Homo sapiens: one gene and its partners. The protein of the gene in region 2 purifies or fractionates together with the protein of the main gene of each other region. This does not show direct contact. Each region holds a gene or a part of one and is shown on either strand. Other genes may lie near its edges.

The links.
Region 1: the proteins of CD40 (region 2) and BIRC2 purify together in Homo sapiens (affinity purification with western blotting; 4 studies listed by BioGRID and IntAct, with this or other methods). This does not show direct contact.
Region 3: the proteins of CD40 (region 2) and KIF14 purify together in Homo sapiens (co-immunoprecipitation; 2 studies listed by BioGRID and IntAct, with this or other methods). This does not show direct contact.
Region 4: the proteins of CD40 (region 2) and SAAL1 purify together in Homo sapiens (co-immunoprecipitation; 2 studies listed by BioGRID and IntAct, with this or other methods). This does not show direct contact.

The regions. Positions count from the first base shown.
Region 1 is NC_000011.10:102,350,195-102,357,219, reverse strand, and holds part of BIRC2 (baculoviral IAP repeat-containing protein 2), read right to left. Parts: coding exon 6,471-7,025; intron 6,377-6,470; coding exon 6,277-6,376; intron 1-6,276. UniProt on the Homo sapiens protein: Multi-functional protein which regulates not only caspases and apoptosis, but also modulates inflammatory signaling and immunity, mitogenic kinase signaling, and cell proliferation, as well as cell invasion and metastasis.
Region 2 is NC_000020.11:46,113,809-46,121,315, reverse strand, and holds the start of CD40 (tumor necrosis factor receptor superfamily member 5 isoform 1 precursor), read right to left. Parts: upstream 3,003-7,507; 5' UTR 2,973-3,002; coding exon 2,922-2,972; intron 1-2,921.
Region 3 is NC_000001.11:200,610,741-200,617,765, forward strand, and holds part of KIF14 (kinesin-like protein KIF14), read right to left. Parts: coding exon 6,872-7,025; intron 4,870-6,871; coding exon 4,615-4,869; intron 3,666-4,614; coding exon 3,578-3,665; intron 1-3,577. UniProt on the Homo sapiens protein: Microtubule motor protein that binds to microtubules with high affinity through each tubulin heterodimer and has an ATPase activity. Plays a role in many processes like cell division, cytokinesis and also in cell proliferation and apoptosis.
Region 4 is NC_000011.10:18,096,068-18,103,092, forward strand, and holds part of SAAL1 (protein SAAL1), read right to left. Parts: intron 788-7,025; coding exon 704-787; intron 1-703. UniProt on the Homo sapiens protein: Plays a role in promoting the proliferation of synovial fibroblasts in response to pro-inflammatory stimuli.

The DNA of each region.
Region 1 (7,025 bases), on a different chromosome or scaffold from region 2:
AGCCAAGCATTACTCTGATACCAAAGCCAGACCAGGACAACACAAGAAAAGAAAATTATATGCCAATAGCCCTGATGAGCACAGATGCAAAAATCCTCAACAAATACTAGCAAACCGAATTCAGCAGCCTACTAGAAGAATCATATATCAAGTGAGATTTATCCCTGAGATGCAAGGATGGTATGACATATGCAAATCAATAAATGTGATACCACACATTGACAAAATGAAGGATAAAAATCATATAACCAGCCAGGTGCAGTGGCTCACGCCTGTAATCCCAGCAGTTTGGGAGGCCAAGATGGGTGGATCACCTGAGGTCAGGAGTTTGAGACCAGCCTGGTGAAACCCCATCTCTACTAAAAATACAAAAATTAGCTGGGTGTGGTGGCATGCACCTGTGGTCCCACCTACTCGGGAGGCTGAGGCAGGAGAATCACTTGAACCCAGGAGGCAGAGGTTGCAGTGAACTGAGATTGCATCACTGCACTCCAGCCTGGGTGACAGAGCAACACTCCATCTCAAAAAAAAAAAAAAAATTAATAATAATAATAATAATATAAACATCTCAACAGACACAGAAAAAGCATTTGACAAAATTCAACACCCTTTCAGGATAAAAATTCTCACCAATTTAGCTATAGAAGGAATATACCTCAACATAAGGACCATAAATGGCAAGTGCACAGTTAACATCATACTCGATAATGAAAACCTGAAAGCTGGCCGGGTGCAGTGGCTCACGCCTCTAATCCCAGCAATTTGGGAGGCTGAGGCAGGTGGATCACGAGGTCAGGAGTTGGAGACCAGCCTGGCCAACATGGTGAAACGCCATCTCTACTAAGAAATTACAAAAATGAGCTGGGTGCAGTGGCACGCACCTGTAATCCCAGCTACTCGGGAGGCTGGGGCAGGAGAATCACTTGAACCCAGGAGGTGGAGGTTGCAGTGAGCTCAGATTGCGCCACTGCATTCTAGCCTGGGCAACAGAGCAAAATTCCATCTCAAAAAAAAAAAAAAAAAAGCTTTCAGCTTTTCCACTAACATGAGGAACGAGACAAGGGTGCTTACTCTTGCCACGTCTATTCAATATAATACTGGAAGGGTTAGCCAGAGCAATTAAGCAAGAAAAAGAAAAAGGCATCCAAATCAGACTGGAAGAAGTCAAACTCTCTGTTTGCAGATGACATAATCTTATATATATAGAAAACCCTAAAGATGCCACCAAAAACAGTTAAAACTAATAAACCATCCAGAAGTTGTAGGATACAAAACCAACTTACAAAAGTCAGTACTAACAATGAACTATCTGAAAGAGAACTTAAGAAAGTAATCCCATGTACAACAGCACCAAAACAATAAAATACTTAGGAATAAATTTAACCAAGGAGGTAAAAGAGAAACACAATGAAAAACATATGACACTGATAAAGGAAACTGAAAATGACAGAAATAAATTTTTAAACAATCTCGTGTTCTTAAATTATAAGAATATTGTTAAAATGTTCATACTACCCATAACATTCTACAGATTCAATATAATCCCTACCAAAATTCCAATGACTTTTTTATCACAGAAATAGAAAAACCAATCATAAAATTTGTACGGAACTTAAGGCCCAGAATAGCCTAAGCAATCTTGAGAAAAAACAAACAAAAAAAACAACTGGAGGCATCATACTTCCTAATTTCAAGCTATATTACAAAGCTACAGTAATCAAAACAATATGATACTAGCATAAAAACAAAGACATACACCAACAGAACAGAGAGCCCAGAAATAAAGCCACATATACAATCAATTAATCTTTGACAAGGGCACAAAGAACACACAATGTTGAAATGATAAGTCTCTTTAACAAACGGTGTTGGGAAAACTGGATATCCAACACCGTTTTTATGTAAAACAATAAAACCAGACCTCTATCTTATACCACCTACAAAAATTAACTAGAAATGGATTAAAGACTAAACATAAATCCAGAAACCATAAAATTCCTTAAAGAAAACGTAGGCTAAAAAGCTCCTTGGCACTGGTCTTGGCAATAATGTTTTGGGTATGACACCAAAAGCACAGGCAACCAAAACAAAAATAAACTGCGACTACAACAAGCTAAAAAGCTTCTGCTCAGCAAAGGAAACAATCGACAAAATAAAAAGGCAACCTACAGAATGGGAGAAAATATTTGCAAATTATACATTTGATAAGGAGTTAATATCTAAAATATTTAAGGAACTTATACAACTCAATAGCAAAAAAAAAAAAAAAAAAAAACCCAAATAATTCAGGTTAGAAAACGGGCAAAGGACCTGAACAGAAATTTTCCCAAAGATATACAAATGGCCAACAGGTACATGAAAAGGTGTTCAATGTCACTGATCATCAGGGAAATGCAAATTAAAACCAAAATGAAATATCACCTCCCACCTGTAATGATGCCTTATTATCATCGGAGACAAGAAATAACAAAAGTTGGCAAAGATGTGAAGAAAAGGGAACCCTTGACCATTGTTGGTAATTTACTACTGTCATTATGGAAAACAGTATAGAGGTTGCTCAAAAAACTAAAAATAGAATTAGCATATGATCTAGCAATCCCACTTCTGTGTACATATCTGAAGGAAATGAAATCAGTATCTCAGAGATATCTCTACTCCCATGTTCAAGCAGCTATATGGAAACAACTTAAGTGTCTACTAAGGGATGAATGGGGGATGAGCCTGGCTGGGCGTGGTGGTTCACGCCTATAATCCCATCCACTCCGGGTGGATCACTTGAGATCAGGAGTCTGAGACCAGCCTGGCCAACATGGTGAAACCCCGTCTCTACAAAAACAGAGTAATTAGCCGGACATGATGGCAGGTGCCTATAATGTCAGCTACTCAAGAGGCTGAGGCAGGAGAATCGCTTGAAGCCAGGAGGTGGAGATTGCAGTGAGCCTAGATGGTGCCACTGCACTCCAACCTGGACAACAGAGTGAGACTCCATCTCAAAATAAATAAAATAAAATAAAATCCTACCATCTGCAACATGAATGAACCTGGAAGGCATTATGCCAAGTGAAATATGCCAGAGAAAGACAAATACAACTGGCCCTTGAACAACACAGGTTTGAACTGCACATGTCCATTTACACCCAGATTTTTCTCAACCAAATGCAGATCACATTTGCAGATGTGAAACCCACATATTTGGAGGGCTGAATTTTGGATGCACAGGTTCTGCAGAGTCAACTTCTGGACTTCAGTATGTGCGAATTTTGGTATACATGGGGGTCCTAGAACCAGTCCTCCGAGCATACCAAGGGACAACTATACTGTATGGTAACCAAACTCACAGAAACAGAGAGTAGAATGCTGGTTGCCAGGGATAAGGGGGTAGGTGAAATGGGAAGATGTTGGTTAAAGAACACAAACTTTCTGAGGATCTAATGTACAGCACATGGTGACTATAGCTAATAATACTGGACCTTATACCTGAAATTTGCGAAAGAGCATCTTTTAAGAGTTCTCACCAAAAAAAAAAAAAAAAAAAAAAAAGAAAGTTACTACATAAGGTGATGGATTTACTGAGATTAAAGATTATTCCCAGTTGAAATGTGGGCTGGGCTCAGTGGCTCATGCCTGTAAGCCCAGCACTTTGGGAGGCCAAGGCAGGCAGATCACTTGAGGTCAGAAGTTTGAGACTAGACTGGCCAACATAGCGAAACTGCGTCTCTACTAAAAATACAAAAACTACTGAGTGTGGTGGCGTGTGCCTATAATTCCAGCTACTCGGGGGGCTGAGGCTTGAACCCAGGAGGTGGAGGTTGCAGTGAACTGCCATCTTGCCACTGCACTCCAGCAGTGATAGGTGATGGAATGAGACACTGTCTCAAAAAAATAAAAAAAAGGAAAAAAGAAATGTGTTGTTTTCAGAGAAGCATTTACAAAACACGCCCCTACATCTTCTCCCTTAATCATTTAAAACAAAACACAAGTTACAAAAATAAAGATTTTGATTTTGTTTTATAAGGTACAAAATGTAGCAGTTCCAACACTGGAATTTGGAAGCTGTTTTTGTCTTTGATACCACAACATGGATTAAATTTCAAATTAATGTATATAATCCCATAGAGCCCAACATAATTAAGTCATTTAAAAGTCTGATAAAACATGCTTTTTAATTTTAAACATAATTAATAATTTAGTCATTTTTCAGTGTAAAAAAGTCAAAATTTATCTTGATATATTATTAATATTAATAACTTTAAAATACAACTTTTAACAATGTACTGATCCATAATAAAGTATTTGTTACTTCAAGTTTCTTTTTCATCATATATCATACAAAATGACGAAAACTTTTTAAATTTCCTGAAGGGGTTCAAGAGATTCTTCATTATTGTGAAAGACACTCACAGGTAAAAACATAATCTGTGATGTATGATTCCACTTATATATGATGCCTAGAGTAGTCAAATTCATAGAGACAGAAATAGAATGGTGCGGCAGGGGGCAGTGGCTCATGCCTGTAATCCCAGCACTTTCGGAGGCAAAGGTGAGCAGATCACTTGAGCTCAGGAGTTCAAGACCAGCCTGGCCAACATGGTGAAACCCTGTCTCTACTAAAAACCCTGTCTCTACTAAAAATACAAAAAAATTAACCAGGCATGGTGGCAGGCACCTATAATCCCAGCTACTCAGGAGGCTGAGGCAGGAGAATCGCTTGAACCTGGGAGGTGGAGGTTGCAGTGAGCCAAGATCGTGTCACTGCACTCCAGCCTGGATGACAGAGTGAGACTCCACCTCAAAAAAACAAACAAGGGCTGGACGCGGTGGCTCACGCCTGTAATCCCAGCACTTTGGGAGGCTGAGGTGGGTGGATCACGAGGTCAGGAGATCGAGACCATCCTGTCTAACATGGTGAAATCCCATCTCTACTAAAAAGTACAAAAAATTAGCCGGGCGTGGCAGCGGGCGCCTGTAGTCCCAGCTACTCGGGAGGCTGAGGCAGGAGAATGGCGTGAACCCGGGAGGTGGAGCTTACAGTGAGCCGAGATCGCGCCACTGCTCTCCAGCCTGGGTGACAGAGTGAGACTCCGTCTCAAAAAAAACAAAACAAAAAAAAAAAAAAAGAGAAAGACAATGGTGGTTGCCAGGATGTTGGGGAATGGGATAATGGTGAATTAGTACTTGATGGGTAGACAGTTTCAGTTTGGGAAGATGCAAAGGTTCTGGAGATGGATAGCGGTATAATCGCAGAACGGTTAAGAATGTACTTAATGACACACAACTATACACTTAAAAAATGGTTAAGATGGTAAATGTTATGCCTATTTTATCACTATTTTAAAAAATTATCTAGGCCAACCCCTCCTCATTTTACAAACAACGTCCAAGTTCACATAGCTACTCAATTACAAAGACAATTTAATTCTATTTCTACTAATAACACTGCCCCTAAATTATTTCTAGGCTATAATAAAAAAAGACACTGCTAGAGACAAAGTGGCTAAAAGGAGGTAAATGACAAAAAAAAATTGTACAGAAAAAATAATTTACAATTACAATTAAAATGGGCAGTCAGATATGCTTTTTTCTTTTTTTTTTTTTTTTTTTTTTTGAGACAGAGTCTTGCTCTGTTACCCAGGCTGGAGTTCAGTGGCACAATCCTGGCTCACTGCAGCCTCCGCCTCCTGAGCTCAAGCGATTCTCCTGTCTCAGCCTCCCGAGAAGCTGGGACTACGGCCACGCGCCACCACGCCCAGCTAGTTTTTGTATTTTTAGTACATACGGGGTTTCACCATGTTGGTCAGGCTGGTCTCAAACTCCTGACCTCAGGTGATCCACCTATCTCGGCCTCCCAAAGTGCTGGGATTACAGGTGTGAGCCACCACGCCCATCTAAGATATGCTCTTAATACATGGACTTTTACATTTGACTTATTCCTGCATCCATTCTATGTCCCTTCTTGTTTTCCTGTTCTTACCTTTTTCTAACGTCTTTTTAATCTATTTTATATGTCTTTGTAATCCTTAAGTACTCTTTAAAAGAAATGGGAAATAAATAAAATGTACGGTCATACTTGTAACTGACTTACAAAAGTACACAGAAGACTGCAGAATATTTTTCAACAAAATAATTAAAGTTAAAATGTGATCTTTTAGAAGGATAATTCCCCAATGGCATAAAAGAGGCTTTGTTATAATTTAAAGGTAAACAAAATCATGTAGGCATGCCTACTTCTTTTAAGCACAGAGTTTTTTGTACAAATACCTTTTTCAAAACAATTACCTTGGAAACCACTTGGCATGTTCTACCCATGGATCATCTCCAGATTCCCAACACCTCAAGCCACCATCACAACAAAAGCATTTGACATCATCATTGCGACCTTCAGGAAAAAAAAGACTAAATATTGAAAACACGTATGTTCTAATATGTAAATTAAAATAAAATGATAAAATGTATAGTTATTTGCTTCTTACCCACATAATAAAAACCAGCACTTGCAAGCTGCTCAGGCTGAACTGGAACACTAGATGGCCAGTACATAAATGTTCTCATTCGAGCTGCATGTGTCTGCATGCTCAGATTTGAAATGCTAAACCTCAGAGTTTCTAGAGAATTTTCCAAAAATGGACAGTTGGGAAAATGCCTCCGGTGTTCTGACATAGCATCATCCTTTGGTTCCCAGTTACTGAGCTTCCCACCACAGGCAAAGCAGGCTACCCTATCTCCAGGTCCTATATAATAAAAACCAGCTCTTGCCAATTCTGATGGTGACAAAAAAGTTAATGGCCACATATGGTAGGTAAGAAATCTGGCTTCTTCAGTACTCATTGCATAACTGTAGGGGTTAGTCCTCGATGAAGAGATGTCTTCAACTGCTCTAGAATTAAGAGGGTTTGGAGAAAGGCTGGAGTAAGAACCACTGAACAAGCTACTATGTTCCAAGGTGGGAGATAATGAATGTGCAAAACTGTTTCTCATTGGAGACGTATTCTTAGAGGTGGATCCCAGACTAGCTGAAACCAGATTCT
Region 2 (7,507 bases):
TCATAAAATGCTAGAATGTAAAGCTGGAAGGGTAAACTCACACTTTCATTTTACAGATAGTTGAGACTGAGCACCAAAGAGGAGGGTCACTTGCCCAGAGTCTCACAGTGACAGAGTCCAAATGAGAACTCAGGTCTCAATGCTCCTCTCTCCATCAACTTGTGTTTCATCTTCACCATTTTACTACATCCAGGTACCACCCATGCTATTAATTACTTATTGTTAATTTCAATACTTTTATTTTATTTTTTGAGACAGAGTCTCGCTCCATCGCCCAGGCTGGAGTGCAGTGGCATCATCTCAGCCCACTGCAACCTCTATCTCCTGGGTTCAAGCAATTCTCCAGCCTCAGCCTCCTGAGTAGCTGGGATTACAGGTGTGTACCACTATGCCCGGCTAATTTATGTATTTTTAGTAGAGACAGGGTTTCACCATGTTGGCCAGGCTGATCTAAAACTCCTGACCTCAAGTGATCTGACTGCCTTGGCCTCCCAAAGTGCTGGGATTACAGGCACAAGCCACCGTGCCTGGCCGGTACATTTACTTTAAATGTAAACCTCACATCATTGCCAAGAGACAAGAACCAGTATCACTTCTCATAAATAAAAGGTAACCCTAAAAATAAATTCTGGGGAAACAAAACAAGGTTATTAAAACCCAGCTGGTTGTTTGCTTGTTGAAGGCCCTCCCAGGCCTGCTCTTGATTTTTGTTTTAAAAGAAGGATTAGCAAGCCTTTGAGAGGCATTAACTCTATTCTAGCTCCAGAGACTTCCTCTTTGAAAAAATGAGAAGGATTTTTAAAAGAACTGTAAAGTAAGTGTATGTTTAATTCTATGTCCATGTGCTCCTTAAAACTGTCCCACAGTTTGGGAACAGCCAGTGAAAAGAACACAAGTTTGAGAGTCAGACAGCTTTAGACTCCAGTCCTGACTTTGTAACACTTACTAGTTATTTTGCTTCTCTTAGCCTCAGTTTCTCTATCTCTAAAATGGGAGTAATAATGCCTGCCCTGCAGGTTGGATTACGAAGATAAGAAAGAATACATGTATATGGCCTAGCACAGTGTCAGGAACATAGTAGGTGCTCATTAAATGGCAATTTTAATCATCATTCATTTGTTTCTGCTTGCATGATATATGGCAAGCAGCCCGGCTACCTGGCTGGCTGTCCAGAATCCTACCTAACTGGTGGCTCTCATTCAACCTGGGTATCTCAGCAAATTACTTACAGAAATGTGTCTTACCCAAAATGGGAAAGGAAGTAGAAAAGGCTACTGCCCCCCACCAGCTCATTGCAAGACACCATCCTGTGAACGTGGAGCTCCCACACTCCCAAAGATAGGAAAGTCCTTGATACCATCTTCAAACACATGAGAAATAAAACGCTCCCCTAAAAGTCTGTCAATCTCCAGTTCTCACTCCCCATAGTTCTGGTCCTTCTGCCACAAAACAGCTCAGGACCAGAGCTTGGAGACTCTCACTATCTGAGAGGCAGGCTCGGGAATCATGCAGATGTAGATTCACAACCAGGTTCTTCCATTAGCTAGCTATGAGACCTTTGGCAAGACAATCCCCCTTTCTGAGCCTCAATTTGCCCATCTGTATAATGGGGGAGTTGTGAGAAATCAGACAAAGAAAACAGGCAGTGTTTGGCTCAGAGCCTGACACACAAGAAGCCCTCAATAGATAGCTTCTGACATTGTTGTCACAGCCCAGCCTCTACCTGGAGCCAAAGTTGGGAGTTATGAGGGCAAACTCTGCTCTTGAGAAGCCTGGATCACACCCTTCACCCCACCTCCTCTGGCTCTTTCTCCACTCCTACCACAAGGGCCCCCCTTTACCTCTTTCCAGCTCCGCCCTCCCCCTGCCTCCCTGTTCCCTAAGAGCCATTGCTTCAGGTGAAAGTGAAAGCTGTGGGACCAAAGCAGCCTCCCCACTCCCTCTCTTCCCTTGCTGCTTCCCTTGCTTTCCTTGATACCATGGGTCATTCCTGCCCAGGCTTCAGGCAGGAATCTACAGCCCTCTAAAGTAGGGGGAGGCCAGAGGGGCTGGGATGAAGGAGCCAGGTACTTGGGGGATTCCCAGCCTCCAGAATGAGGAACTACAAAAATACATTTAAACAAAAAGTGAGTCAAGTGTAGGCTTCTGAAAATCCCGGAGATATGCTTGGTTGGCTCTGAGCCCCTCTGGTGCCTGGAGAAACCCCTGGTTTCTCCAGCCCTCTGATCACCAGCCCTGTCAGAGCCAACCAGAACTCTGGTCTCCTAACCCTTTATTGTGTCCCATAAACTGTTCATCTCCCCAGGGGTCTCCTATGTCATCTTAAATTCAGGAGAAAAAGGCAAAGCCCTGGGGATTCCTCCTAGGTTGGAACACCCAAGATACGGTTCGGGGTGGAAGGCGATGTTAAAAGCTCCTTGCCTTCTCACAAAAGTACCTGGGCCTCTGCACCCATCTCTTGTTCCCACAAGATGCCCTGGAAGAAGGCAGCCCCAGCTGGCAAGGAGATGATAACTACTTACAGAGGCTGGCATCTGTCCACAATAAGAAGGGGACAGGAAACGGGCCAGACCCGCCCCTTCCCTTGGTCCGCCTCACTTCCCGCCCTCTGAACCCCCTACCAGTCTCTGTGTGGCCAGCCTCTGAGGCTCCCTAAACCCGTCCAGGCCGTCTAGGCACGCTTGGGCAGCCAGTGCCTTCCCTGAGCGGCCCCTGTAGGCCGCTCCCGGGACCCCAGCCCGGGAGAAGAGAGAGGCAGCCCACCCCATTCAGCCAGGAGCGGGGGCACCTTGCCCAGCTCCCACCCACCCTCCTGCCCCCACAAAAATCAGCCAGGAAGGCCTCTTCCCCGAAGTCTTCCTTCCCTTTCCTTCTCATTCCCCACTCCCAACTCCCGTCTGGTCGGGGCAAAAACAACTCACAGCGGTCAGCAAGCAGCCCCAGAGGACGCACTGCAGAGGCAGACGAACCATAGCGAGGTGAGACCAGGCGGCAGGACCACTGGGCGCCCGAGCGAGGCCTCTGCTGACTCCCCTGCCCCAGCCTTGGCCCCGCCCAGGAAAGGGGCGGGGTCTTCAAAGACCAATCGCGGTCCACCTATCGGGGGGGCGGAGCCCCCAGCAATTCACCGCGCAGGAGTTTCCCCAGAACATTCCCACAAGTCTAATTCCCCCGGGAGTTTAGGGACGCATCTTGCTGTGTACGGGAGGAGGCATGGTCCCAGAGACAGCTCTTCTTCTTTGCCCCCAGGTCCCACAAAGGCCAAGCCGAGGCGGGCTAGGAGCTAGCCTGCTTCCTGCGACCGGAGAGAGATCCCATGGGTGCTGGGGCCTGCCACAGGGACCCTCACGGTTTTCCCCTCCCTGCCCCGCTCTCCGCTGCCTCTAGGTATCCTGGCAGAACCGAAAGAGGCTCCACTGCGGAGAGGCCTGAGGAAGTTCCCCCCACACCACCACGCAGAAAACGGGAAGGCCACAGCTGGGGTATGGGGAGGCGTTTCAAGGAAGAGTTTCCCAACTCAGAATTTCGCTCTCTTTCAAAGGAAATTCCCTCGTGTGGGCGCGTCGTCTCAACTTCCCATCCATTCATCCATGCATCCATGCGTCCTCACCTCATTCCATTCCATCCCACCTCCCACCCAGCACCTGGAGACAGGCATTTATTAAGAGTGGGGCCGGGCGCGGTGGCTCACGCCTGTAATCCAGCACTTTAGGAGGCCGAGGCGGGCAGATCACTTGAGGTCAGGAGTTCGAGACCAACCTGGCCAACATAGTGAAACTCCGTCTCTACTAAAAATACAAAAATTAACCGGATGTAGTGGCGTTCGCCTGTAATCCCAGCTACTCGGGAGGCTGAGGCAGGAGAATCGCTTGAACCGCAGAGGCAGAGATTGCAATGAGCCGAGATCGTGCCACTGCACTCCAGCCTCGAAGGCAGAGCAAGACTCAGTCTCAAAAAAAAAAAAAATAAATAATAAATAAAAATAAAAATAAAGGTGGGGGCCAGGCGCGGTGGCTTACGCCTGTAATCTAACACTTTGGAAGGCCAAAAAGGGAGATTGCTTGAGGCCAGGAGTTCAAGACCAGCCTGGCAACATGGCAAGACCCCCATCTCTACAAAATAAAGAAATTTTTAAGTTAGCCAGGCATGGTGGCAAACACCTGTAGTCCCAGCTACTCAGGAGGCTGAGGCAGGAGGATCGCTTGAGCTCAAGAAGTCAAGGTTGCAGTGAGCCATGATTGCAATGATTACATCACTGCACTTCAGCCTGGGCGACAGTGCAAAACTCCATCTCAAAAAAAAAAAAAGAGTGGGCCAGCCTTTTGTGGCATCATAAAACACTTTAAGTATGTTAGGAAACTCGGGACCCTCTCATTTTGCAGAAACACACACACTTGTGCCTACATTTCCTGGGTTCATGAACTCTGAAGACGTGCTTTTGTTTTTTTGTTTTTTGTTTCGTTTTGTTTTTTGGGTGTTTGTTTGGTTTTTGGTTTTTGGGTTTTTTTTGACAGAGTCTCATTCTGTTGCCCAGGCTGGAGTGCAGTGGCATGATCTCGGCTCACTGCAACCTCTGCCTCCTGGGTTCAAGCAATTCTCCTGCCTCAGCCTCCCGAGTAGCTGGGATTACAGGCTGGCGCCACCACGCCCAGCTAATTTTTGTATTTTTAGTAGAGACGGGGTTTCTCCACGTTGGCCAGGCTGGTCTCAAACTCCTGACCTCAGGTGATCCGCCTGCCTTGGCCTCCCAAAGTGCTGAGATTACAGGCATGAGCCACCGCACCTGGCCCTCAAGATGTTCTTGAACCAGTGTTAACACTCTGCTTTGCAGCATGGAACACCTGGGTTCTGGTGCAGCCTCTGCCTCTGAAGGACTGTGTTCCCTTAGGCCTAAATTTTTCTCCAAGGAAAACTTAGGAGCTTGAACTAGACAACGGTTGAGGTGATGACCCTCCAAGCTCTCAATTTCTGGAAGAGGACAAGAGGCCAGACCTCACAGATCAGGGAGGATGGAAGAGGAGGACACTTCTAACCCCATTCTCATGGCTTCTGCTGTTAAGGGCACATTTGCAAGTCTTGTGGATTCTGCCTCTAGGATCCATCCCTTATTTTCTGTCACCTCTGCCACTGCCCTAATTCAGAGGGTGCCATCTTTCATCTGGACTGTCCCAACAGCCTCTCTCATTCCACAGGATTTATTGAGCACCTACTATGTGCCAGGCAACTCTTTACACTGCTGCGATTCTCTTGATAAACTCCAGATCTGATCGACTGGGACACTTTCCTGCATAAAAGCCTCTTTGGGTTTCCCTGCACCCTCAGGATGATCCAAATTTCTTATCCTGGCAAAGCACACCCTTCCTCACTCAGCCCCAACCTCTCTTTCTATGCTTACTTCCTGCCACGTCCTCCCATGCACACTGGCTTCAGCCTCTCCCCACTTCCCAGGCACACAATCTTTTTTCCTTACGGTTTATCTCATTGCTCTTGATGTTTCCTTCCTTTCCTTCTCCTTTCTTAAACAGTTTAAATGTTGCCTCCTCTTACACCTTCCCCAACTCCCTGAGGCAGAGGTAGGTACTCTATCCCACCCTGCCTCCTCCCCTGTGTTGCCACAGCATTTAGCATGCCAGCTCATAACTCCTTCTGCCTGGTCCCATTTGACTGTGAGCTCCCTGAGGGCAGGACTGGATCTATCCCAGTCCTAGGTACATAATAGGACACCAATATATGGGTGCTGAATGAATGAATAAATGAATGAGTGGGTTCAGCAACTTCTCATCCTAAGTACAGCCTCCAATCATGACAAAGAGTTGGTGGCAGGGGGTGCGAAGCTGGTAATCTCAACACAGACCTCAAGCTGCAGTGGCCTCTTGAGAATGGTGGTCAGATACCAAAAGGCCAGAAACTCTTGAAATCAGGGTCCAGGGAACTTCATTAAAGCCACCCAAACATGCCCAGGATGGAGAGAAGATTAAAATATCTTTTCCCTTTTTAACATACTTTGAAAAAAACAAGCACGGTTTTAAATCCTTTGAGAGAGGGGTGTTACTATAATGATTTCAGCCATTACTTATTCTTTATTTGCTTGATTCCAAAATTGGGCCTTTCACAAAACTGCCTGGGGAAGCAAGTACACAGAATTAAAACATTAATTATATTATATAAAACATATCATAGCAGCAATTAAAGCAGCTTAAATTAATGTGTGAAGGAATAAATGTTAGCCTTCGGGTTGCCCCATGGGGCGAAGACCAGATAAGATAAAGGGAAGATATTTTAGTATATACATATCCTGAGGAGGCATGTGCTGGTGGGCACAGGCCCAGAGAAGGCCTAGAATCTTGTTGAGCTGAGAAGAGTGTGCTGGAGGAGGAAAGCGAGAAGATGATTTAAGGGAAAGTGGCAATATTCGGAGGCCAATCAAAAAGGGAACAATGAAGGGTTCTGCAATAGGAATGGGGCAAAGGACATTCAAAAGAGTAGGGAGCCAGGATTTTGGAAACTCAGAGATGAAATGGCCTTTGTAGGGAGGTGGGTTCACAGTGCCAGGTGAATGGGTGAGGAGCATGCCTAGAGGTCCAGTGTCCACAGCGCTGCCAGAATCTGGCATCCAGAGTGTTCTGTCTAATATGCAAATCCAATTGTGTTGCTCCAAGGTTTAAAGTGGCTCTCCAGGGCCCTCACCCCTTAAGCTTGCAGAGCTGCAAGGCCATGGGCCTCCTGGTGTACATCTCTAAGCATCCTTCCTGCCTTCCCCTTCATGCTCCAGCCCCACTCCCCAGATGTCCCGTGCTGTCACCTCTGCCTGGAGAGCTCCCTTCCCACTGCCACTCTCCTTTCACCTGGCCAACTCTTTCTCACCCTTCAAGGTCCATCTCAGGCAACCCTCCTCTGGAAATCTCTCTCTAACAACCAACCTATCCCCCTGTGCTCTCTCAGAACCTGGGGCAGCTTTACCCAAGCAAGACTCTAGCCCGACCACACTGTATTTCAATTTTTCTGTTTACTTGTGGAGCCAGTGTATTGAGGCGATTCAACTCTGTGGGGTATAATGATGAAGATTTTCTCCCCTAATCTCTGCCTTCAGCCATGCTGTGTTGAATCTCCCTTTTCCATCCCTTAATGACATTTTGGGCAGATTGCATTACTTTTGGATCACTTTCTGTTGTTAAACCTCCATCCTTTAGACCTTTATTCTCAAACTCAATTTAAATCTCATTTTATCTTCTCTCTTACTCATTCAAGAGTTAACTTGAGCCAGGACCCTGCCTGCTAGGAGGAAAAGGACTTGGTGGAGGTGGGGCGGATGGTCTGATTGGGAGACATACCCTACCACCCCCACCCCAACCCCGTGTCCATATATGGTTTCTCATGGGCAAATGAGTAAGTTCCTTAGCGGCTTCTCCACTGCACAATTCTCTCACAGGGTCATCCAGCCCAGGCTTGACCTCGCCTACCCCACCCCACCACCTAGGGCCTACCAGTGTCCTGACCCTCTTGCCCA
Region 3 (7,025 bases), on a different chromosome or scaffold from region 2:
GCAATAGAAAATTAATTAAGAATCAAAATGAGATGACTATAAATATGACTAATCAGAAAAGGGAAAATTTAGGATGGCCAGAGAAAAGGGAAGGAGTAAATAGAATGTGAGGCATGAGAGACAGAGTAGATTGAACCAGAAAGAGGGGGTAGGGCATTCTCGGGCAAGGACAGCAGCATCTGTGCATCACATGTGCTCAGAATAGGAAAGACACCCTGTAGGTTGACATTTGATCTGGTAAGATGGAACCTTAAATCAACAATTCTTCCTGATTGGGAGAGAAAGCAATCATTAGATTAAGTGGGCTGAGCTTCTCCTCCTTTTGACTCTGAAAGATACAGTGTAGAGGCCAAAAACGGGAAACTTTGCTTCCAAACAGCTCTTCTGACAGTTAGGGCATGGTTTCCTTATTAGAGAAATAAATTTCATCCACTGACCCAGAAGTGAGTCAGCAAGCATCTAACAGAATTGGAAGCTTCAAGGGAGTGTCAAAGAGATTTAAGTTCAATTCACCAAATATTTATTGTGCCCTACTAGGTACAAAGCACTCTTCTAGGAGCTGTGGGAAAATATGAGATGAACTGGACATAGTTTTTATCCTGAAAAAACTCAGAAGCTAATTGGAGATGCAATACAGTACATGAGTAATACAAGGCAGAATATAGCTGGTGTCATGAGAGAGAAACAAAACACTTCCAAAGAGACCAGGTATAAGGGAACACCAAGTAATTATAAGGTCATTGACAAATGCTATGAACAGGGATGGGGGCTGTCAGAATTCAATAAACACGTAATAATGCTTATTTTATGTAAAATAGTATTTTATGTTATAGAGGCTCCAGGAGGACTTAGAAATGAAAATGTAGTGTGGGAAACAAATTGGAAAAGGTAGCTGGGGCCACACTGGAGAGGTCCTACTTTTTTCTTCTCCTCTGAGGCTCCTGCCATCATGCTCGCTATACCACCTTCTATTACCCCCATCCACATACTATTATTCTCTACCATCCTGGCTAATTCCAAAGTTGATATAACCACATTTAGTTGGGCTCACTATGTGCCAGGCACTCTTCAAAACCTTTTGTATAGATCAACTCATTTAATGCTCACAACAAACCTATGAGAAAGACATTGTCAATATAATCTCTATTTTCTGTTCTGAAACACAGAAAGACATTAAGTAAATTGTTCAAGATCACATTTCTACTGCAGTGATGAAGCTGAGATTCAAATTCAAATAATGTATCTCCAAAGTCCATGCTCTTTTTTTTTTTCTTTTTTTTGAGACAGAGTCTTGCTCTGTCGCCCAGGCTGGAGTACAGTGGCATGATCTCAGCTCAGTGCAATGTCCGCCTCCAGGGTTCAAGCGATTCTCCTACCTCAGCCTCCCGAATAGCTAGGATTACAGGCGCCCACCACCACACCTGGCTAATTTTTGTATTCTTAGTAGAGACAGGGATTCACCATGTTGGCCAGGCTGGTCTCAAACTCCTGACCTCAGGTGATCCGCCTGCCTTGGCCTCCCAAAGTGCTGGGATTACAGGCGTGAGCCACCATGCCTGGCCAACCAGGCTCTTAAGCATTCATTACACTATGTTATTCAATGACATAGTCATTCCACGCAAAATCTGAGCCTCCTAGTCCTTTGAAATCATTCCAAAGACCTTTGCCTCCACTACACTTATCTATGTCTTCCTGGCTTTACCTTCAAATTACTATCCCTCTAAAATCTGGAGAGCCAATAGAGAACTCTGCCCCACAAGCCCACAGCTTTCTCTTATGCCCACTAAACTTGGACTTGAATCATATTTCATCTCATAGTCTCAATACCACCATATTTCTATTGATCCCCATACTCCTCCTATTTTCAATTTAATTACTGGGAATGAGAGGTTGAGGGTAGAAGAAGACAGAGGAGAGGCAGTATATCCACAGAAGAGACAGAACTCATCAATTACTCAAATCTACTTTTCCTCTTGTGATCTCAAAAAATGACATCGATATCTAATCTGGTTGTCCAACCAGAAACATTGATTTCTCTCTCCCTCATCCTCCATTTCCAATAATCAGCAAGTCTTACCAGTTATCCTTACTAAGACAGTCCTTCATGAGCCAAGTTCTGCAGGCCTTTCTAGTTTATTCTCTTTTTTTTTTTTTTTTTTTTTTTTGAGATGGAGTCATGCTCTGTCACCCAGGCTGGAGTGCAGTGGCGCGATCTCGGCTCACTGCAACCTCCATCTCCCTGGTTCAAGCGATTCTCCTGCCTCAGCCTCCCAAGTAGATGGGATTACAGGCATGTGCCACCACACCTGGCTAATTTTTGTATTTTTAGTAGAGACAGGATTTCACCATGTTGGCCAGGCTGGTCTCGAACTCCTGACCTCAGGTGATCTGCCCGCTTCGGCCTCCCAAAGTACTGGGATTACAGGCATGAGCCACCGCACCCAGCCTCTAGTTTCTTCTCTTATCACTTTCCACCCTCAAATTCCATGCTCAAAACACAGTGAACAATTTATAGATTCCCAAAGGCTCCCTACTTTTTTGCTTTCAAATCTTGGTACATGCTGCTCCCTCTCCCTGGAATATCCTTCTCCCCTTCTTTACCAAGCTAATAATGCTATGTATCCTTCAAAAATAAGCTCAGCTGCTCCTTCCTCTGAGAGAATGTCTCCCTCCAACTTTATATGTCCTCACTTACATGTTCTATTAGAGCATCTACTTTAGTTTGTTTAGCATTTAATTGATTGTACTTGGCTGTTAACTTATTTCTCCCACTACACTCCTTTGAATACAGGGACTGGGTCTTTTAACTCCACACCCCTAATCTAGCACAATTTTCCCAATTTCCTTTATCATAAAAAATACTGGAGGAAAAGCATGAAAATTATAAAATCCCAAGCTCTACACCAGACCAACTGACTCAGAACCCCCAGAAGAGATTTTTAGCAAGTGTGTACATACACATACACATGCACATATATGTCCCTGCCAAGAATCCCCGGTGATTCTTATGACCAAGAAAATTTGAGAAAAAAAAAAACTGATCTAACAAGCTGCCTGGCAACAGCAGAATGCTCAGTAAAAGGTAGCTGAATGTGTAAATGAATAAGTGAAATAGGAAGCCAGTACAGCCTATTCAGGTGTAGTAGAGTGGAAAAAGCATGGCTTTTGAAGTCAACTCTGGGTTCAAATCCCAATTTCACTACTCTTTCTGATTCACGTTGTCCAAAAGGTTATGCCTGCTGTCCTTAGTTAAACTGTACACCTATCTGACTACAAACACACGTATAACAGCACATAGCTACCATGTTTGTGAGCCTCTACGTATACACAAAAGTAAAGCAAAAACAAGGGAGAAAAGACAGAAGAGATGACTTCACTATCACTGCCCACTAGGTGAAACTGATTCTGAATTTAGAATTTCCACCCTCCCTCTCCATACCACTGTTCCAAAGAAGAGTGATCTACAAATTAGAACTGATCTTCCATTAAGTATTTCCTTAGTGGCCATGACTGATTTGAACTTGATTTGACTATTTTCTACTCTGAAAAGAAGCTTGCAGGTATTATAAGAACATACCTCTTGGGTTTGTTTTCTGGCTACTTGAGAAAAAAGATCTTCACAAAATCTTGGAATTATTCCTGGTTCTTCACTAAATCCCATCATCCTGAAAAATACATTATGAATAAGGGGGAAATAAAACTAATTCTTTCTTTAAAATTCTTTTTGGGGAAATAGGCTGGGAAGGGAGTAGGAAGCAAGTTCACTGAATCTCATAATTAAGAATCTGGACTCTGGAGTCAAATCTGCCTGAGTCCAAATCTTGACTCCAAGATATTTAACCTCACTAAACTTCAATTTCCTCTACTGTAAAACAGGAATAATACAACTATCTAATTCAGAGAATTGTTGTGAAAGAATATAAGCAAAGTCTTTAGCACAGTGTCTGGAATATAGTAAGAACTCAAATGTTGGGCAACCCGCTTGGGACCCCTCCACGCTGTGGACTGTGGAAGCTCTGTTCTTTCGCTCTTCACAACAAACCTTGCTACAAAAAAAAAAAAAAAAAAAAAAAAAAAAGAACTCAAATGTTAGCTACTGTTAAAATGCTGAGTATTTCTTTCTAGGACAGGTATTATTATCATAGCTACCATTTATCAGATGCCCCTCCACCCTTTTTTCTTAAGAGATGGGGACTAAGTTGCCCAGGCTGGACTCGAACTCCTGCACTTAAGCAATCCTCCTACCTCAGCTTCCCAAGTAGCTGAGACTACAGGTGTGTGCCATCACATCTAGCTTAGATGCCTTACTTTTAATTCTCACCAAAATACTTAAAAGATAACCTCTCTAGGCCTTAGTTTATGTAAAATATATAAAGTACAGTAAAATGGGGCCAATGATAATTACAAGATGAATTGTATCAAGGTAAATGTATAAACTGAAGCCCAGAGGCTAAGTAAATTGCCCAAGTTTGCAGAACTGGTATATAAAATGGATGAGATTTGGGCCAAGATCTGTGTGATTTCAAAACTATATTCTTTCTATCACCCCTATGCCACTTCTCACAAAAGTATATTTAAACACTTCTGGATAATTGCATTTCCAATACAACTTACGTATATGATTTTCCAGAGCCAGTCTGACCATAAGCAAAAAGACAGGTATTGAAGCCTTCGAAGGCTCTTTCTAGGAGTGGTGCTGCTAGCTTCTCATAGACAGTTGTCTGGCTAGCGTAGTGAGGATGACATTCATCAAAAGACCAGAATGAAACATCATAAATAAAATTATAAACTTGTTTCGTGTCAGGGTGTTCCACAGTTATTTCTTTCCCACTCATGAAGACTACCTGGGATGCTTTTTCAATCTTCTCTCTTGAAAGAAGCACAAAGAAAAAAATCAAGTAACTAAAATGATCAAGGGTATTATTCTCACAGAACATAATAAATACCTCAAAACTATTTAAACAATCTTCCAAGGCAAGATAATTCTGTAGTTTTATGTGGAAAATGCAGATAAGCAAACATAATTCTAGTGGGTTTCCAAAATATATTTCCTGAGGCTCCAGTGCCACCAAAGGGAAAATCCCAGATTCCTCCAGAAAACCTATCCTACTTTTACAAGATTTTTTCCTCTTTTTTTTTTCTCTTGAACTATACCTTTTCCCATCCCACCTACTATAATCTACCTATACTCTTCATCCAAATCTACATCTTTATTATACAAATTTGGGGGGGTACCAATCTAAATAAAGCTGGCATAAAATACAAATATCTAATTTTAACAAACTCAGTTGACTGTAAGTTTCAATCATAAGTCTCTCTTGGCTACTAAAGATCTCTCCTCCTTCCTCTAGATTCTCTCCCTTAAAATCATGAATCTTTCTGTATATCCTTTTTCCCTTTGAGACTTAGGTGGAAATCTTTCATTTACTTTAGATCTACAGAAAAACATCATCACTCTTTGTCTGGCTCCAGATATACACTCCCTCCCCGCTCCATCCCTGACTCTGAGACTGCTTTAAATCAGAATTTATTCTGGAAAAAACACCTGCCTCATCAATTTGACAAGTACTCTACCCTGGCCCTGCTTTCAAGGCTTGTCTGATGAGTTTGGAATCAGGCACTTGGTCCCTTACTAAGTTCAGTATAGTCATCCATCTTGCATTTTGTCCCTACCAGCTCTTTCTATTGTTTCTCTTCCTATCATGGTTCTTGAGGCTCTATTAGACATTCCAATTCTCTCAAACCAACTCACCCTCAGTTCTCCCTCTTAATACTAACCCATTTGCACGAAAAAGATTCTACAGTACTGTATAACTTGCCTTTAACTACTGACCCCTTAGGTTCAAACTGGAGGTTCCTGCCCTGATGCAGTGGTCACCAAATCCTCTTCTAACTTGCTTAGATACACAGCTTCAAGTTAAACACTACTAACTCTGTGAAGTTTTTCACTGTCCCTTAAAATATTTTAAACAACTACATTAAAATATTTTAAAACAATTACATTTTGTCACATTCACATTTTGTCATGTCCATCTTTTCCAACCTTATCTTTAATCTGTGTCTTCCCCACCCACAACCACTTTTAGAGAGAGATTTTTTGCCATCAAAATCAAATCTAATGTATCACTGCATTTATAACTACTATATAGTAATCGGAGACAATGATGATGATAATCACCACTCTGGAAAGGGTTTTGAAAGGACCTCTTTAGGGAACCAGTAATTTGTTATGGCTCTTCTTTTTTTTGAGACAGTCTCGTTCTGTCGCCCAGGCTGGAGTGCAGTGGCCTGATGTCAGCTCAATGCAGCCTCTGCCTCCCGGGTTCAAGTGATTCTCCTGCCTCAGCCTCCCGAGTAGCTGGGATTACAGGTGTGCAACACCATGCCCAGCTAATTTTTGTATTTTTAGTAGAGACAGGGTATCACCATATTGGCCAGGCTGGTCTCAAACCCCTGGCCTCAAGTGATCTGCCTGCCTTGACCTCCCAAAGCAATGGGATTACAGGCGTGACCCACCACACCTGGCCTGTTATGGCTCTTTTTAAGGGATAGGTATAACATTCCAGCATATATTGCAGATCTGAAAGCAGATTTCATTAGAGACCTAAGTGACTTATTCAGACTTTTTAAAAGCAATATATCTAGAGAAACTTCAATATACAAAATATGGTGATTCAATTTTTTAATTTTATAGTCAGTGATCAAAAATTATCAACACACACTACAACTAGACCTAAAAGTTCTTTCTATATAAAAGTATTGCCAACAAGTTTGAAGATGCACGAATACACTGACCTTCCAAAGGCAGAGAGGAATTAAAGGTACCTTACATGTAACTGCTTGGCTTTAGATTTTAAAAGGCATCACATACCTCTTGGTGAAAGGTCTTACGCGTACTGCCACTGTCACTTGACTATTCTCTACTTTTAAGGGGTCTTTTCCTGCAGAGGTGTTCTGAACTACAGTTTCTTCTTCGGGAAGAATTGTATTTTCTGCGGATCTTTCCTGTTTATTTGCAAGAAAGG
Region 4 (7,025 bases), on a different chromosome or scaffold from region 2:
AAGCAATGGTGGATTTTGTCAGTAAAAAAGAGAAATCAACTGAAAAATGGGAGGCCCAGGCTCTGTTCCTTGTTCTGATACATACTAGCAGCATAACAGTGGTTATGCCTAACTCGTCTCCACAGCTGGTAAATGAAAGTGCTAATTTCCCTGGTCCGGCCTGAATCTAAAATTCTATGATTTTCATAATTTTAAATTATTAAATTATTAATAATTTAATATTTTAAATTATTACAGGCATTTAGCTCACGCTTATAATCCCAGCACTTTGGGAGGCCAAGGTGGGAGGATCACTTGAGGCCAGGAGTTCAAGACCAGCCTGGGCAACATAAGGAGACCTTTGTCTCCACAAAATAAAAATAAAAATTAGCTGGGTGTGGTGGCTTACACCTATACTCCCAGTTACTTGGGAGGCTGAGGTGGGAGGGTCCCTTGAGCCCAGGAGGTCAAGACTGCAGTGAGCCGTGATCACGCCACTGCACTCCAAGCCCTGGAGACATAGTGAGACCCTGTCTCAAAAATAAAATAAAATAAATTTAAATAGCAAATTACCTAGGACCTGGCAATGTTCAATTAACATCTACAGGCTGATTTGTTGATTTATGGTCAGTAAGAAAATCAAAGTGAGAAAAATAAAAGACTATCCAGCACTATCTGTTCTTATTGCTTCAAAGAAGAAGGCTTTAGAAATGTACATACTTACTCTTAATCGAGGACACTTGGACTTGGCCAGTACTCCCATGAATATATCAGGAGCATTAAATTCTTGGAGAAATAAAGCCACGTCCTGAAAAGAAAAATGATTATTAACTTGGATGTTGAATATTCCTCCCTAAACCCTAAAGCTCAGGCAACCATAAAATTCTATATTAAAATTAGAATTTTACGCCAGGCGCAGTGGCTGACACCTGTAATCCTAGCACATTGGGAGGCCAAGGCTGGCAGATTGCCTGAGCTCAGGAGTTCAAGACCAGCTGGGCAACACGGTGAAACCCTGTCTCTACTAAAAATACAAAAAAATTAGCCGGGCATGGCGGCATGCACCTGTAGTCCCAGCTACTCAGGAGGCTGAGGCAGGCGAATCGCTAGAACCCGGGAGGCAGAGGTTGCAGTGAGCTGAGATCACGCCACTGCACTCCAGCCTGGGTGACAGAGCGAGACTCTGTCTCCAAAAAAAATAAAAAAATAAAATAAAATTAGAATTTTAGACACAAGAAAAAAAAAACACAGGCTTAGGAACTGTGTCAACAGACAAAAGTGATGTTAGAGAGTCTTTATGGTAACTAGTCCCAGACAATGGAACAATTTCATAAACAAATCTAAACTACCTACAATACTCCAGAGGATTATCCCACTCTTTTCTGCCCGAATCTATTTACCTTAATAATTTTTCTGCCCACTAGGAATTCTCATTAAACACATTCAAACACATTTGGTGATTACCTATCAGGTATTAAACTAGAAGCGGGGGACAAGGGAAAAAAGCAACACGCTGGGCGCAGTGGTTCACACCTGTAATCCTAACACTTTGGGAGGCTGGTTAGAAGGCCGAGGTGGGTGGATTACTTGAGCCCAGCTTGGGCAAACATAGTGAAAACCCATATCCACAAAAAATACGAAAATTAGCCAGGTGTGGTGGCACATGCCTGCAGTCCCAGCTACTTGGGAGGTTGAGGTGGGAGGATCACTTGAGCCTGGGGAGCTCAAGGTTGCAGTGAGCCATGACTTTGCCACTGTACTCCAGCCTGGGCAACACAGCGAGAAAAAAAGGAAAAAAAAAAAAAAGGTAAAACTTGGCTGGGCGAGGTGGCTCACGCCTGTAATCCTAACACTTTGGGAGGCCAGGACAGGCGGATCACTTGAGCCCAGGAGTTCGAGACCAGCCTAGGCAAACATAGTGAAACGCCATCTCTACAAACAATACAAAAATTAGCTGGGCATGGTGGTGTACCATCTGTAGTCCCACCTACTCAGGAGGCTGAGGTGGAAGGATTGCTTGAACCCGTGAGGCAGAGGGTGCAGTGAGCTGAGATCTCGCCACTGCACTCTAGCCTGGGCGACAGAGTGAGACTTTGTCTCAAACAAAAACAAAATTCCTTCTTGTCCTCCAAGAGCTTAAAACACGGTAGGGGAAAGAAGTCAAGAACTGCTATTGGGTCCTGTCCAAAACCAGAATTTGTGTTTTCAAAATCATCAATAGAATAAAAATTCTGATCACAATGTAACTGTGGCAGCCTCATAACTTCTTCCTACAGAGTCTGCCACAGTGCCTAAAGGGGCGTAACACACAGGTGACATGTGAGTGGACATGTGGCCCCAAATGAGCCAAATCTCACCTAGGAATGTAAGACACAAAAGCTAAGTCAGTTTGCTTGGGGACCTGCAATGTAAAATATATAAATAAAATTAAGTCTCTGGCTGTCCACTGCTTCAGATTTTCACTAAATGTGAGGTGTGTATTTGAGAAGCCTTAACTTAAAATATAAGCTGCATGGCTTATGTGAAAATTAAGGGCCCTGGAACATCTCAAAGAGACAGGCAATTATTCTCCACAGCAAGTGAAACCAGTAACCTGCCAGACAACTGACTGAGAGAGACACACTCTACTTACTAAAGGACCATGGTCAGAGAAAATAGTATTTTCAAAGATACACTCTAAACTGAAAGTCATAATGGCAGATTCTCTTCACTGTAAGTGATCAAGCTGTCCTGTGGGCAATTCTTTGCCACATGCAGAAATTTTTAAATTTAATGGTAATTCCTGGAGTAGCACAAGGGTGGCCTAACAATATCAACACCAACAGTAATAAAATTAACATTCATTGAACAAGTATTAAATGCCAGGCACAGTGAAGTGGCTTGCATGCTATCTCATTTAATTCTCAAAACAACTCTATCAACTAGTTATCATTGTTAGCCCCATTACACTCATAAGCAAACTGAAGTTTAAAAAGTGTAGCAACCTGCCCAAGATTATACAGTCTCAGCAGAGCAAAGCTAGGATTTGAACCCATGAGTCTGATTTGAGCCTATGGTCTTGTTTTTTAAAAGAGATGGGGGTCTTGCTATCCTGTCCATACTGGAGCAGTGGCTATTCACAGATTCACAGGCATTATCATAGCTCACTGCAGCCTCCAACTACTGGGCTCAAGTGATCCTCCTGCCTCAGCCTCCCAAATAGCTGGGAATACAGGCAAGTACCCAGCGAGACTATGTTCTTAACCAGCACAACATGCTACCTCTCAGGTATTCATCTATTCATTCATTACTCCCCAAATATTTTCTGAAAAACCTAATAGGCACTGTTTTAGGTTCTGGGGATACATCAGTGAACAAGCTAAATAAGGGCTCAGTCCCATGGAATTTTCATTCTAAAGAAATGAACAAACAATAAATATAAAACAACTAAACTACACAATTTCTAAATGCTACAAAGAAAATAAGATATGTGCTAGAAACCAAGATAAAGCGGGCTACTTTAGACATGACATTGAAAAGAAGGCATTTCAGAAGGGGTGACATTATGCTTTGATGAGAAGGAATTTAAATCCATCAGAGGACACATGTAACAGAGTGAAGCAATTCTGTGGGAACACCAAAACAAGACAGGTTAATTCTGACTGGAGTGTCTGGGGTGGCATCACAGAGGAGGTGACATTGAAGCCGGGCCATAAACAATGAGAAGGATTTTGCCAGCTGGAAGCCATTCTAAGCAGAGCGGCATGAATAGTGCCCATGGACACGTGAAAGTGCAGGAAGTATCTGGAGGTCTCTGGTCCTCGCACACTGAATTCATGGTTACAGAACGATAGGCGACAAGACTGAGATATAAACTCACCAGACTTTGCGCCAGGGACCTCAATTGTCAGTGGAGAGCTCAGTTCTGAGTGGTGCCTCAAGGGCACCTCTTGTAAGGGAGCAAAAGGAGGCCAAAGAACATGACTTTGCCCTGCACCAATAACCTCCTTCAAACAGTAGCGCTGTTTTCTCAATTTTAAAACTGAGACTTTCACCCTAAGAGTTCATTTAAAACACAGGTTTTATTTCTTTTTAAAAAAATTTGTTTAACCATAATTTATCAATAATTGTAGAATAGAAAGTAGATCTGAACAATACTCTCAACCAACCTGATCTGACATTGAGAATAAGATATTCCACCCAGCAACAGCAGAACACACATGCTTTTTAAGTCAACATGGTAAATATTTCAGGTTTACTTAAAACCATATTCTGGGCTATAAAACAAATCTCAACACATTTAAAAGGATTCAGTGTTCACCAACCACAGCAAGAGAAAGATAACTGAAACATTCCCAAATATTTGAAACTTACCTATAAACCAAAGAAAAAGTAAAGAATATTAGAAAGTATTCTGAACTTCTGCGGGCATGGTGGCTCACGCCTGTAATCCCAGCACTTTGGGAGGCCGGGGCAGGGGGATCACTTGAGGCCAGGAGTTCAAGACCAGCCTGGCCAACATGGCAAAACCCCATCTCTACAAAAAATACAGAGCGAGACTCTGTCTCAAAAAAAATTGTAAACACAGCATATCAGAAATTGTGGAATACTGGTAAAGCATAAATATTTAGGGAAAATTCTATAGTGCTTGATGTCTATCTTTAAAAAGAAAAGATTTCAAACTATAAAGTATGTGGACAACTGATTTTTGACAAAGACACAAAAGCAATTAGTGGAGAAAGGATCGTCTTTTCAACAAATGAACTTGAACAATTAAATATCCATAAGCAAAAAAATAAACTTCATCCATCCTTGCACCATATACTATACAAAAATCAACTCAAAATGGATCACAGACTTATATGTAAAACCTAAAATTATAAAACTTTTAGAAGAAAATGTAAGAAAACAACACAATTAAAAAGCAGGCAGAAGATTCAAACAGGTACTTCACCAAAAAAGATACACAGAGTACAAATAAACACATGAAAAGATGCTCATCATTAGGAATTAAGGAAGTCCAAATTATAATCACAATGAGCTATCATTACATACTTATTAGCATGGCTAAAATTAAGAAGACTGACCATACTAAGTGTTGGTGAGGTTGAGGAGAAATTGGACCTGGAATTATGTCTCATACACTGCTTGTGGTTATGTAAAATGGTAAAAAACTGCTTAGGAAAACAAATTGAAAGTTTCTTAAAAAGTTAAGCATACACCTACCGTATGATCCAGCCATGCCACTTGATATATGGTCTGGCTCTGTGTCCCCTCCTAAATCTGACCTTGAATTGCAATCCCCATAATCCCCACGTATCAAGGGCAAGACTAGGTGGAGGTAAGTGAATCACGGGGGTGGTTTCCCCCATGCTGTTCTCATGATAATGAGTGAGTCTCATGAGATCTGATAGTTTTATAAGCGTCTGGCATTTCCCCTGCTCGCACTTCTCCTTCCTGCCACCGTGTGAATAAGGTGCCTGCTTCCCCTTCCCCTTCTGCCATGATTGTAAGTCTCCTGAGGCCTCCCCAGCCATACTGAACTGAGAGTCAATTAAACCTCTTTCCTTCATAAATTACCCAGTCTCAGGTATTTCCTTATAGCAGTATGAGAATGGACTAACACACCACTCTAGGTATTCACCCAAGGAAAAACAAAGTATATGTCCATACACACTTGTATACAAAAGTTCACAACAGCTTTATCTGTAATAAGCCTTAAACAACTCCAACATTCATCAACAGGTAAAAAATAAATTGTGGTATATACATATAATGGAATACCATTCAGCAATAAAAAAAAAAAAAAAAGCCACTGATATACACAACATGGATGAATCTCAAAATAATTATGCTGTATAAAAGAGCCAGACCAAAAAAAGCATATGAGCACATTCATATAAAACTCTAGAATACATACTAATCTGTAGTGACAGAAAGCAGATCAGTGGTTGCCTGGAGGGGATGGAGGAATGGAGAGGCAAGAGGAAGAGACTACCAAGGACCATAAAGAAACTTTCAGGGGTGATGGGTATGCGCTGTATCCTGATTACAGTGACAGCTTAATCTGCGTACACATCCGTCAAAGTTTATTGGCTGGGTGCGGTGACTCACTCCTATAATCCCAGCACTTTGGGAGGCCGAGGAGGATGGATCATTTGAGGTCAGCAGTTCAAGACCAGCCTCGCCAACAGGGTAAAACCCTGTCTCCACTAAAAATATAAAAATTCGCAGGGATTGGTGGCTCACACCTGTACTCCCAGCTACTCTGGACGCTATGGCAGGAGAATCACTTGAGCCCTCGAGGCGGAGATTGCAGTGAGCTGAGATCGCACCACTGTACTCCAGCCTAGGTGATAGAGACTCCATCTCAAAAAAAAAAAAAAAATCAATGTCAATGATACTTCAAAACAATATGCAGTTTTTTGGTGTTAATTATACCTCAATAAAGTTTTAAATAAAATGACTGAAACAATGAATAGCCATTGACAATTTTTAAGAAAATGAGTACAATTAAGTCTGTATTTCCGGAAAAAAAGGTAACACGGGTGGCAATGTAGAGGACAGAAGGGAGGTGAAAGAGACTAAAACAAGGATTTTAATCAGGAAGCTATTGCTAAAGTCCAGGTAATAAAACAAGAAAGATTACATAGGTCATTTAATGTCTTTTGGCCTCTATTTTCTTAACTGTAAAATAAGGGTACTACCTACATCACAGGGTTATTGTGAAGATCAAATAGAATACTATATATGAAAATGCTTTTGAGCTATAGAATAAAATACAGATATTAAAACACTATGATTAATACTGCAATTACAGACATATAATTATTTATTGTCCTTTCCTTCTAATATTATCATGGTATATCAGTGGTCTTCTAACTCCTAACCTGCTGTCAAATATATGGCCAGAGCTCTCTTTAGGTAGGTAAGTATCAGAACTTTCCCGGCCTACATGTGTATAGGAATACATTCATAAGAGCTACGTATTTAGTCCGAATCTGTTGAGAGCTCAAATCCTCCAGCCTCAAAGACAGAAGTTTAGCATTTATAGCCCCTGGGATCTC